Homo sapiens: one gene and its partner. The protein of the gene in region 2 purifies or fractionates together with the protein of the main gene of each other region. This does not show direct contact. Each region holds a gene or a part of one and is shown on either strand. Other genes may lie near its edges.

Evidence for each region. The genes of interacting proteins can lie anywhere in the genome.
Region 1: the proteins of TOMM70 (region 2) and WDR37 purify together in Homo sapiens (co-immunoprecipitation; one large-scale study listed by IntAct). This does not show direct contact.

The regions. Positions count from the first base shown.
Region 1 is NC_000010.11:1,059,249-1,062,903, forward strand, and holds part of WDR37 (WD repeat-containing protein 37), read left to right. Parts: intron 1-3,655. UniProt on the Homo sapiens protein: Required for normal ER Ca2+ handling in lymphocytes. Together with PACS1, it plays an essential role in stabilizing peripheral lymphocyte populations.
Region 2 is NC_000003.12:100,394,537-100,398,191, reverse strand, and holds part of TOMM70 (mitochondrial import receptor subunit TOM70), read left to right. Parts: intron 1-3,655. UniProt on the Homo sapiens protein: Acts as a receptor of the preprotein translocase complex of the outer mitochondrial membrane (TOM complex). Recognizes and mediates the translocation of mitochondrial preproteins from the cytosol into the mitochondria in a chaperone dependent manner.

The sequences.
Region 1 (3,655 bases), on a different chromosome or scaffold from region 2:
ACTTGTAGTCCCAGCTACTCAGGAGGCTGAAGCAGGAGAATCACTTGAACTCAGGAGGCAGAAGTTGCGGTTAGCCGAGATCACGCCACTGCCCTCCAGCCTGGGGAGACAGAGCGAGATTCTGTGTCAAAAAGAAAAGAATTTGTCGTATTGCTGTTTCAAGCTACTTTGGTTATGTTATCTGCCTTCCTCAAATTATACACACTTAGGAGAATGATAATTTCTATAGCTACAAATTAATTAATATTGGAAATATTGAAAAGAATCTGGCCAGGCGCAGTGGCTCATGCCTGTAATCCCAGCACTTTGGGAGGCTGGGTCAGGTGAATCATGAGGTCAGGAGTTCAAGACCAGCCTGGCCAGGATGGTGAAACCCCGTATCTACTGAAAATACAAAAAATTAGCCAGGCGTGGTGGTGGGTGCTTGTAACCCCAACTACTCAGGAGGCTGAGGCAGAGAATTGGTTGAACCCGGGAGGTGGAGGTTGCAGTGGGTCGAGATCGCGCCACTGCACTCCAACCTGGGCGACAGAGCGAGACTCTGTCTCAAAAAATATATATATAAAAGAATCTTTTGAGAAAGAGCAGAAAGCTAAGTGTTCATTGATGCTGTTTAATATTACAGCATTTCTGTCACGCAGGCTGGAGTGCAGCGGCATGATCTCAGCTCACCACTGCCTCCACCTCCCAGGGTGGAGCAATTCTCGTGCCTCAGCCTCCAGGGTAGATGGGAGGCGTGTACCATCACGCCCAGCTGATTTTTGTATTTTAGTAGAGACGGGACTTCACCATGTTGGCCAGGCTGGTCTTAAACTCCTGACCTCAGGTGATCCGCCTGCCTGGGCCTCCCAAAAGGCTGGGATTACGGGCATGAGCCATCATGCCTGGCCCAATATTACAGCATTTCTAAAGATGAGGAATTCAGCTTGCTAACACAGTGTGTTTATGGGTTTCATTAATTAGTCGAATGTTTGGCCAGTGCCTGCTGTGTGTAGAGCACTGTGCTGCATCACAGCTGTGTGCCTGTTGTTCTGACTGCTTACAAGCAGTGGGGTGTATTACGTACACGGCAACATATACTAAGGGCAGGTGAACTGGACAGACTAAATGAGTCAGGAGTTCAGAAGGAGCGTTTATTCTGTTAAATCCATGGTAGGATAAAGAGATTGAATTTTTAGAGGGGACTATTTATAGTTTCTTGAAAATAATGTTTTATTGAAAACCAGAAGGACATTTAATCTCCATAAGCCTTCTTTGTAATATGGTAATCTGTCCAATAATATTGGGTAAATGTGAATATTTTGAAGGAAAATAATTACGTTTTGGAATCTCAGGTTTCTCTTTGCTTGTATTTAGGTAAAACAGTGCATAGAGGTTAAAGAAGGTTATATTTGGAGTGAAGAAGTTTGTTTTTTCTCTTTACAGTTCTATAATCAGTTTATTAGTGTTTAGTCTGTTAAATACAATCGGGTGCCACATAACAAATGATGTTTTGGTCAACAACAGACCTCATGTAAGATGGTGGTCCCATAAGATTGTAATACTCTATTTTTACTGTACCTTTTCTATGTGTAGATATGTTTAGGTACACAAATAGATACCATTGTGTTACAGTTGTCTGCAGTATTCAGTACAGTAACATGCTGTGCAGGGTTGTAGGCTAGGAGCAGCAGGCTGGGCCATCTAGCCTAGGTGTGGAGTAGGCTGTGCACCTAGCTTTGTGTAAGTGTACTCTGCGATGTTCCCACAGTGACGAAATCACGTAACGATGCATCTCTCAGAACCTGTCCCCATCCTTAAGTGATGTATGACTGTGTTGAAAGGCTCTTAATTGGATTTGGGAACTCTGTCTCATAGGGATGTTATGAGGATTAGTGACTCTTTGTATTTATTGATCCATTTGAGCCTTACAGCAATTCTTTGTAGTAGCTCTTCAGCCTCTGGTAGATCTGCCAGTCCACCAACTTTCTTCCAGTATCTCTCCATTAATTCTTTCTGTTTTCACTTCCCTTCCTGTCTATTTTAGATTCCATGGTATACCATTTCAGTAGTTTTACAAACACCTGCCACTTCCTTGTCCCTCTTCCCATGATACCAACCTGAAAACCCCCTAAACTGGTGATTAAACATTTAAATAAGATTTATGCTACGCCGGTTGAGCATCCTAATCCAAAAATTCAAAATCCATAACATGACACAAGTGGAAATTTCCACACCTTACCTTGTGACAGACAGGTTGTAGTCAAAATGTGGGTGCGCAACATAGTTTATTCAGGATCCCCTAGGGCAAAATAAAATTACCTTCAGGAGGCCTGCTGTGGTGGCTCAGGCCAGTAATCCCAGCATTTTGGGAGGCCGAGCTGGGCAGACCACTTGAGGCCAGGAGTTCGAAACCACCTTGCCAACATGGTGAAACCCCGTCTCTCTTAAAAATACAAAAATTAGCTGGGCATGGTGTTGGGTGCCTGTAATTCCAGCTACTTGGGAGGCTGAGGCAGGAGAATTGCTGGAACCTGGGAGATGGAGGTTGCAGTGAACCGAGGTTAACACCACTGCACTCCAGCCTGGGCAACAGTGGAGACGTCATCTCAAAAAAAAAAAAAAATTACCTTCAGGCTACGTGCATGAGGTATACATGAAACATAAATGAACTTTGAGTTTAGCCTTGGGTCCCATCCCTAGGATATCTTACTATGTATATGCGGATATTCCAAAATCTGAAAGCATCTGAATTCTGAAACACTTCTGGTCTTGAGCTTTTTTTTTTTTGGGGGGGCCAAGGACTGAGTTTCCATGGAGGATGTGGTGTGAAAGGAAGGAAGTGGTGATAGGACCAATACAGACACTGGGAAAAAATGTGGAGGGTGTGAATACAGAGATGATAAGATTACTCCAGTATGAAAAAATCTGTATTTGGTGCCAAGTTCCAGGGAGGTGATTGTAGGAAATGCATACATTTGGTTGTAGTTGATCAGCAGAAAAAGATTGCCGGCGGTATTGACTATTTTGTGAAGTGGCGAAGAAAGCAAGCTAAACCAAAGAGAACACCATGCAACTTACGGAGAGGCTGGAATAGCCAGTGAGATAAAATCAGTGATCCAAAACTTATAATTTTGATGAGAAAGGAAAGGTGATATTGTAATCTCTGCATTTTTGGTAACGAACTTGTAGAATGTCTGGAATGCATCAGAATGTTTCTACAGATGAAGTTCTTAAGAGAGGGAAGGGAAACCCTTTGCTGGTTTTATTTGCTTCATTTAACTGAAGATAGAGTCTCCCTTTTTCTCTGAGGCCATATCAGGACAGCTTTCACAGGCTTTTGATGTGGTTTCTTTTTTTCCTTTACAAAACATACTCCATAAACTACAAAGTAACTGTTTTATGTTGTAAAGCAAGACTTACTTCTCCTTTAAAAATAGGCCTACACATATGCAATTTGAGAATAAAAGATGATTCTTGGCTTTCTGCTTGCGGAAAGATGGAGACTTATTTTTCCTTATTCCTCCCATGAAGTACATCTAAAAACACTGGACATATATAAAACAAATGTAAGAGTGGGCCGGGTGCAGTGGCTCACGCCTGTAATCCAAGCACTTTGGGAGGCTGAGGCGGGCAGATCACAAGGTCACAAGTTAGAGACCACTCTGGTCAATAT
Region 2 (3,655 bases):
GGCTGGTCTCAAACCCCTGACCTCAGGTGATCCACCCACCTCGGCCTCCCAAAGTGCTAGGAATTACAGGCACGAGCCACCTCACCGGCTGAAACTAGATTTTAACATTTCATTGTGGTTTCAGCCACCCCACCTCATCCCAGGGGATCTGTACCATTGGTATTTGATAAAACCTAGCCATCTCCTTTTCACATTTTAGATGTCCTAATTCCTCTTTTCCACGTTGTCTGGATCAACACTGATGATTTTTTAATTTCATGATATTTCAGAGTTTTTTAGTTTTACAAATAACTTTTTTTTTTTGATACGGAGTCTCACTCTGTCACCCAGGCTGGAGTGCAATGGCGAGGTCTCGGCTCACTGCAACCTCTGCCTCCTGGGCTCAAGAGATTGTCCTGCCTCAGCCTCCCAAGTAGCTGGGATTACAGGCACGCACCACCACGCCTGGCTAATTTTTGTATTTTTAGTAGAGACAGGGTTTCACCATGTTCGCCAGGCTGGTCTCAAACTCCTGACCTCGTGATTCACCCGCCTTGGCCTCCCAAAGTGCTGGGATTACAGGCATGAGCCACTGCCCCTGACCACAAATAACTTTTTATTCACCTGACTGCTGTTAAAAATTAGAATTTAAGATTGGACTCTTTGTGTAACTTAAACTGCTTTAAAATGATTTATTTTTGGCCCCAAATAAAATAAGGCAAAACATTTGCACTTACCATTGTCCATCTTGTGGAATATGTAGGCCTACACCTGTAATCTTTGAATTACTAGATTGTTCTTTGGTAAAGCAACAATAGGAAGGTCTTTGTGATTTTTTTAAACTGGAAATTTATATCTTAACTGTTGGTGACCAGTAAATATTGAAAGACTACTTTTGTCTTCTTTTAATAGTCTGGTCCTTAGAGTTATTATTAGACTATCTAAATGTAATTAATTGATCAGTAATTGTAATTTCTTATCTGTGGTTGGATAAACTGCTGTACATTTGAATAGCACCTCTAAATTGGCATCCTCGGTGGATTTCGCAACCAGAAGCATTTGCTTTCACTGATGGAAACCTGGCAGAATCCTGATGCCCTAACTGTCCTTTCTCCACCTGAGCAATAGCTACAGTTTTTAAAGGAATGAATAAATAGACAAATATTGTCTGTTTAGGGTTTGATATCAGAAAATAGAATGGAAAATCTGTATTTTTGTCTTTTGGCTTATGTTTACCTTAATGTAAAATGATCTGATAGAATTACTGGACTTCTGTCTATTGGGTTGGAGATTTTCCTTTACAATTAGTGTGCACAATTACCTTTTTTCTGGGATAGCAAAAACTTGTAAAGGAAGTGCAAAGGATATTCATAGTTGTTTTAATTAATGGGAATATTGGGGTATCACTGAAGAAAAGCATTTAGTCACAGTTGATAGTGTCTAAGACTGAGGTGCTTAAAGTATTAGATCATATTCCATTTTGAACTATTATAAAATCTACCATGATGTGCCATTTTGCTTCAGTAATTTTTTTAAACTTGAAGAATTAAAAAAAAATTTTAAATTGCAAGGCTTTTTAGAAGATCATATTATCCATAGTGCTTCTCAATCTGTGGGCTTGAGTCATCACGAGGGACCACCACACATATATTCCAAGCATGGTATCCTGGCTGTACCAATGTCCCAGATACTTCTTTTTCAAACATCCTGTGATTTTCTAGAAAAATGCACTTATTTAAAAGCATTATTGACTTCATTGTAACTTTTTTGTCCAATTGTTATTTAATCTGATGATAAAAAATGCATCATTCTTGTGTTCATATTTAGCATTAAATATGTTTAGCCCATGAAATGAGTTTAGCCCACATGAAATGGTTAGGAACCAATAATCTAAGCCAGCCTACTACAGTAGGAAAGGGAAGATGTACCTACACATTTTAGTAAAGGGTCGAGGACTGCATAAACTGTTGTTATTGGTCATCTTGTTTGAAATGAAGTCATTCTCTCCCCCAAATGATCTGTTTTGAGTCATTTTTAAAAAATCAATCAGGGACACCAATGACATTCCCTCTAAGCTTAGTTAACACTTTTCAATCTTAATCCTTGGCAGTATTTCATATTGTGCTCTAAATGTCATAACTTTTCCTGCTGCTTCTGAGGTACTCCATTTTCCTGATTTAAAAAAAAAAAAAAAAAAACCTGATACCAGCCTCATGGATTCTTAGTCTCCTTATCACAATACAGAGGTCATTTCATCTTTTCTGAAACTTCTCTCTACCTAAGCACACCACTATGTGATTTTATAACACCCTGGACTTTTCCATTTTATAGCACTTACCACGTGGTACTAGAATTGCTTATTGCTGTTTCCTGCTATGCTCTTGAATCTGTGAAGGCTGAGACTGGCTCTATCTTGTTCACCATTGTATTGCCAGAACCTAATACAGGTGCATAGCAAGTGTTGAATGAATGAAGTTTCATTTTTTGACTAATAATTAAGGGTTCCTTTGACATCCCTAAGTTTATATTTTATATATGTGTGTGTGTATGTATATATAAATTTCACAAGTGGTATATTTTTCAAATTTTCCAGCTCTTCATTTTTGTTCTACCAGTTAATGCTGGATTCCGTGGAAATCTTTTTTCCTTTCTCTTTTTTTTTTTTTTTTTGAGTTGGAGTCGCGCTCTGTCACCCAGGCTGGAGTGCAGTGGTGCAATCTCTGCTCACCGCAACATCCGCCTCCTGGGTTCAAGTGATTCTCCTCCCTCAGCCTCCTGAGTAGCTCGCCACCATGCCTGGTGAATTTTTTGTTTGTTTGTTTTGGGTTTTTTTGTTTGTTTTTTGAGATGGAGTCTCACTCTGTTGCCCAGGCTGGAGTGTAGTGGCGCAATCTCGGCTTACTGCAACCTCTGCCTCCCGGGTTCAACCGATTCTCCTGCCTCAGCCTCCCGAGTAGCTGGGATTACAGGCGAGTGCCACCACACCCTGCTAATTTTTTGTATTTTTAGTAGAGACAGAGTTTCACCATGTTAGCCAGGATGGTCTCAATCTCCTGACCTCATGCTCTGCCTGCCTCGGCCTCCCAAAGTGCTAGGATTACAGGCGTGAGCCACCGCGCCTGGCCGTAAATCTTAAACCTCATTTGGGCATACTTTTTGTAAATCAGTTGATTATGCATGACCTACAATCATAATCCTGCAGAAGCAGTCATTATAAAAGTATATTCTTCCTAGGTAAAGAGTTATTATGATTTAGTAGGTGGGGTTGGTTGTCATTTTTAAAATTTCCAGACGTGAAATGGGAAAGGACTTTTTTATTATCTTAGGTTTTATTCCTTATTAGGTTTGAATCCTTATTATCTTAGGTATTATTATCCTAGGTTTGATTCATATGAAAGTAACAATTGGTTGGCCAGGTACAGTGGCTCACACCTGTAATCCCAGCGCTTTGGGAAGCTGAGGCAGGTGGATCACCTGAGGGCAGGAGTTCAAGACTGGCCTGGCCAACATGGTGAAACCCCATCTCTACAAAAATACAAAAATTAGCCGGGCATGATGGTGGGTTTCTGTAATCCCAGCTACTCAGGAGACTGAGGGGAGAGGATCACTTGAACCCGGGAGGTGGAGGTTGCAATGAGCTGAGATCCTGCCATTGCACTCCAGCCTGGGTGACAGA